Linked DNA regions of Homo sapiens: region 1 is linked to region 2. Evidence: fine-mapped expression QTL. Tissue or cell type: whole blood. Region 2 holds a variant in brackets; the other region holds the start of a gene. All regions are shown on one strand. Distances are between the middles of the regions.

What was found. PIP is the estimated chance that this variant, and not a neighbour inherited with it, causes the effect.
Region 1: it holds the start of ELOVL5, and the variant in region 2 is fine-mapped to the expression of ELOVL5 in whole blood (TOPMed, PIP 0.91).

Annotation. Positions count from the first base shown.
Region 1 is chr6:53,347,850-53,350,520 of GRCh38, forward strand. ELOVL5 (ELOVL fatty acid elongase 5) reads right to left here and starts at 1,101. Exons shown (of 8, transcript NM_021814.5): 1 at 968-1,101. RefSeq lists a silencer at 502-941.
Region 2 is chr6:53,243,602-53,246,446 of GRCh38, forward strand. It overlaps LOC124901332 (a long non-coding RNA gene), which reads right to left. Exons shown (of 4, transcript XR_007059612.1): 2 at 1,940-2,011; 3 at 670-830; 4 at 444-543. Among named protein-coding and RNA genes, the nearest start is that of MIR5685, 32 kb to the right of the region's middle. The variant G/A (reference allele first, on the strand shown) is at 1,547.

The DNA.
Region 1 (2,671 bases), 100 kb after region 2:
AACGGTTGCAAGACGCAGTTCAGCAAGAACAACTCTTGCTCTAGGCATTGCTCCGTCGACCCGAGGTGGTGGGGTGGGAGAGTCTTACCGGCGTGGAAACAGTAAAAAGGCACTTTTCCTTACAACTCGCAAGACAACACACACTCTAGCTCCCCCGGCGCAGAGCACAACCGCCCCCCCGCCGCGCGCCTCCCTCGCAGCCAACCGCTCCCGCCTCTCCAGGGATCAGGCTCCCAGAAAGGGCCGCCCCGGTCGCCCCCGAGTCCCCGCCCTCTCGCTTTCCCACCAGCCTCATCCCTCCCTGAGTACCAAGGGCTGCCGTTGTCTGGTTTCAATAAAAACTGAAGCGGTCCCGAGCTAGCAGGCTTCCCTCCGAGGGGCGGACGGAAGGTCCGCAGGGTTAACGGAAGCGGAGAGAACAGGACAAAAAGGAAAGGCCGGAGAGTCCCCCCAGCGGCGCCCGGTGCCCGCAGACCCTCGCACAGGCTCTTCGAACTCACCCGGGTTTCGCCGACTCCAAAGAAAGCGCGCTCCCTCCGAGAGCGCTCCCCCGGCTCTCCCGCCGCGCGCTCCGGCCCGCAGGGCGGGAGGACCCAGGCGGACAGATCCATCCCTCCGCGTCTGGTGTGGGCACGGTGTCGTGCCCCGCGGCGCCTGTCAGCGCGCACAGGTGGGACCGCAGCACAGAGAACGCTCCCGAGCGCCCTGCCTCAGCCTCGGCGTGGGGCGAGCCGCCCGCGCCCGCACCCGCACCCCTTTCCCCGCGCCCGAGGAGCCGGGCTGTACCCCGGAGCCGGCGGAGCTGGAGGCCGCGGGCGGAGCGCGGGTTGCCCCGGCAGCTCTTTCTCGGCACCAGGTCCGAGACCTAACGGCAGTTCTCTCTGACCGCTTCCCGGCCGCGCGCTCGCGCGGGTGTCATGGCCGAGCGGCGGCCCCCGACGAAGTTTCCCGGAGCTGACGGCTTTACCTTTTAGCCCAAGGGGCGGCAGCAGCTTTGAGCAGCAGCAAGGCGGCGGCGGCGGAGGGAGCGCGGGTGGCAGCCGGCGCAGAGGCGGATGTAGAAGGAGACACCGGTGGCTAGGACCCGCGCGATGGGAAGAGGAAGGCGCCGGCTATCTACAATCAGAACGTGGGCTGACCGTGACGTCACAATGGCGCGGCCAGCCAATCGGGACCCGAAGGATGAATCAAGCGCTATGATGTCATGCGGCCCGGGAGCCAATCGCGGGACAATAGAACTTTCGTGATCGTAAATTCCAGAATCCGATGCGGTGGAGAGCCTAGGCCGGGGTTGGCCCCTCGGTTCCACGTGTCTCTGGGAAATTTTTTTCCCCTTTCTTCCTAATAAGCCTGCGTGGAACGCAGAGCCTGCGCAATAGCCCCGGTGAAGTTGTCGATGCCCTGAACTCTGGTTTTTTTACTGCCAGGCGTGGCAGGAGTCTGTGGCCGCATTTGGGTGGCAGAAGCCCACCCTCGTTACGGTCTCCTCTATGAGTTATGTCATGCTGAAGGGGATCCACTTCATCGTTAAAGCTGAAAGGGTTAAATGCCCACGGAGACCGCCGGAGTGAAGGTCTGCAGTTGAACAAGATAAAGGAACAAGAACAAAACGACTCAAAACTGTTGTAACCATAACTCCCTTGCAAAGGATTTACCGTGTATTTTTCTTAGGGATTCTGATTTTTCTTTGGAAGCCACTATCAACTCCATTTCTACTCTAGAAATTATTCTAAAGGATTGTTAAATGAGGAAAGATGGAATCAGTGTCTTTTCAGCTAAGCATATTTAAGCACTTAAGACAAAGGGGGTTCAGGGCATAAACGGAAGATCCTTGCTGTTTTTCACTGATATTTGGATAATTAAAGACCTTCATTAGCTTTGTATCCTACTGTTTCCCCATTCAAACCCCAGAGATTTAGCCTTTCTTCGTGTGCCCCTCTTGCTGTATTCTTACTCCTCTATGTGCATCCACCTAACAGTCGGCTATTTAATGTAGGCAAATTTATTCTTTTTTTTCTTTTTTTTTCTTTTTTGAGACAGAGTCTCGCTCTGTTGCCCAGGCTGGAGTGCAGTGGCGCGATCTCAGCTCACTGCAACCTCCACCTTCCGGGTTCAAGCGATTCTCCTGCCTCAGCCTCCCAAGTAGCTGGAATTACAGGCACGCGCCACCACACCCGACTAATTTTTGTATTTTTAGTAGAGATGAGGTTTCGCCATGTTGGCCAGGCTGGTCTCGAACTCCTGACCTCAGGTAATCCGCTCGCCTCAGCTTGCCAAAGTGCTGGGATTACAGACGTGAGTCACCGAGCCTGGCCGGCAAATTTATTCTTTTACATATTTACAATGTAATGCTTATCACGTGCCAGCTGTGTTCCAGGCAGTGGGCCATTGCAATAGGAATGCAAGTATACAAACCATGTACAAATTAAGTAAATTAAACATATACAAAGAATCGAGATTGTCAGTTGCCATTGAGCTCCACAAACACTGAATGACTTCAATTTGCTAGATACTATGTTAGGTATTCAAAATTTGAAACCTTCAAGGACTTCTTGGGCCTGGAAAATGATACAGTCAGGAAGCAACTACAATGCAGAGTGGTAAATGCTGCTATGGACATCAAGGGACATGAGAAAAGCATATGCTGGTGGCATAGACTATTTTTTTGAGA
Region 2 (2,845 bases):
CTGAAACACCAGTTGCTGGGCCCCACCCCTGGAGTCTCAGGTTCAGCAGGTCTAGGGCGAGGTCGGAGGATGTGCACTTCTAATACGTTCCCAGGTGGTGCTGAGGCTGCTGGTCTGGGGGCCACATTGAGAAACACTGACTTGAATGACTTGATGCTGTTGCTGGCCTGCTTTGTAAACTTCTTAGACCCTATCCAGTAATTGCCTTTCTTTTCTTTTCTTTTCTCTTTTCTTTTTCTTTTTTTTTTTTTTTGAGACAGAGTTTCACTCTTGTTGCCCAGGGTGGAGTGCAATGGTGATATCTTGGCTCAGTGCAACTTCCGCCTCCTGGGTTCAAGTGATTCTCCTACCTCAGCCTCCAAAGTAGCTGCGATTACAGGCATGTGGCACCACACCTGGCTAATTTTTTTGTATTTTTAGTAGAGACAGGGTTTTACCATGTTGGCCAGGCTGGTCTCGAACTCCTGACCTCAAGTGATCCACCCATCTCAGCCACCGCACCCAGCCAGTAATTGCCATTCATAAAGAAAGCCAAGATGACACCTACAGAGCAAAATTATGTGATATTCAGGAATAAACACTGAAACATTATTTTGATTAGAATAATAGCTGCACGGAACAGAAACTTAGCTATAAGAGCTTAAGCAAATAACAGTTTGTTTTTCTTACATTCCCAAGAAGACTAGAAGCTGTGATAGGCTGGTGAAATGACTTCACCTCATCAGGGGTCAAGGCTCTTGCTAACTTTCTCTTCTGTCATCCTTGGTAAATGATCTTTGTCCTCATGGTCACAAGATGGCTGCTGCATCTCCATGTATTGCCTCTGCACTCTAGGCAGGAAAATGAATGATGAAGAAAAATGCATGTATGAGCTTTTCTGAAAGTCCCTCTAGAGACTTCTGTTCCCATCTCATGGGTTAGAACTATGTCACATGGCCACACCAAGCTTCAAGGGAGCCTCAGCACTCATTGACCCACATAAAATGGGGTTCCCGTCGATGAGAAAGGAAGGAAGAATGGGTGGTAATCAGCAGGCTCTGGGATGCACTCACCTGCTTGACTCCCAAAGGGTCACATTGCGTACTCAGGCCAGAGCCACCTACAGTGCTAAACCAGCCACGCAACAAGTGAAAGGGACAGAGAAAAGACATGAAGCCACTTCTGTACTAGCATTTCTTGCCTCCTGCTAATGGGTGTTATATGAAAAGGGAAAACTGAACTAGAACTTCTTTACTATAGACTTCTGAGAAGTTTTATTAAGCTTATGTATGTGATGACATTCCAAGGCAGGAACAAACATACTGCATTTTCCAAGCTTATTTGACCACAGAGGCTTTTTAAAAATTTTTCTGGAGCATCTCTCTGAACTACATTCCATGGAAATTTTTGCCAGAAAACCTTGATATATACAGTGTCAACTATCAGTGTGTTTTTTAAGACTCCTTACGAGAAAAAAAGCCAAGTATGTTCTTCTTACATCAGTGAGATAGTTCTACTTTTTTTAAGGGGAAGGAAATGAAAATAGGAACAGTTTGTGAGTCAGGGC[G/A]GGGGGTGTGATACCAGCCTGCCACCTGAGAACCATGCAACCTTGACAGGCCTGGTGGCCTCCCTAGAGTCTCCTGTGGTTTTTTTTTTTTTTTTTTTCTGTGAGACAGAGTCACCCAGGCTGGAGTGCAGTGGTGCGATCTCGGCTTACTGCAACCTCTGCCTCCCGGGTTCAAGTGATTCTCCTGTCTCAGCCTCCAGACTAGCTGGGATTACAGGTGCGTGCTACCACACCTGGCTGATTTTTGTATTTTTAGTAGAGATGGGGTTTCGCCATGTTGGCCAGGCTTGTCTTGAATTCCTGACCTCAGGTGATCCGCCCCCCCTTGGCCTCCCAAAGTGCTGGGATTACAGACATAATCTACCACGCCCGGCCAGAGTCTTCTGTTCTTACTTGCAAAACAAGATCTGTAGGCAAGCACCAGGATGCATCCCAATAAACCAAAATTCTGCAACTTCACAGCTCCTAGAAAGATCAAGAAGGGATGCCTGAATCAATCTTTGGTAATGGGAGATAGAGGATATATGCCCTCCTGTTGGGCGACAGAGTGAAACCCCGTCTCAAACACTGGAGATGGACTCTCGGGGTTTTGACATGTTGGCCAGGCTGGTCTTGAACTCCTGACCTCAGGTGATCCGCCTGCCTTGGCCTCCCAAAGTGCTGGGAGCACAGGTGTGAGCCACCACACCAGGCCTGGTTCTCCCCTTTTAAGGGCTCATGCATTCTATTAAGCTCACCTAGATAATTTAGGATAATCCCCCCATCTCATCACATCTGCAAAGTCCCCTTTGCCATATAAGGTAACATATCTACAAGTTCTAGGAATTAGGACATGGACATCTTGGGACTCATGGGCATTCTGTCTACCATGCAGATGAAATCTATTGTTTAAAGAAGTATAAACAGTGTTGGGAAACTGAAGACTATAACAAAAAATTCAAATTAGGCTTAATAGTATGTGAGACAAGCAGTACAAAAGGTAGAGAAGGTTTATGTGAGAAAAGAAAAGAAAAAAAAACCCAAGAAAGGAGATCAATTACAATACAAGCAAAAGTAGGACAACACTAGTTACGAGCTGGAAGCACGTGAATCCTTTAAGAGCCCGAGCAAAGGGCAAAGGTTTAGTATGGGATTGTTGGAGTTTCTTTCTATTATATATTGTACCTTCACCAATAGAACTAAAAGTCTAAAATCACACTATTTAAAAACCGAGAATGTATCAGCATTAACCAGATTGATCCTACAGGCGCTGCTTGACTTTCAGGTGTGGAGGTGGTAGGAAGAGCCACAGAATGGCCT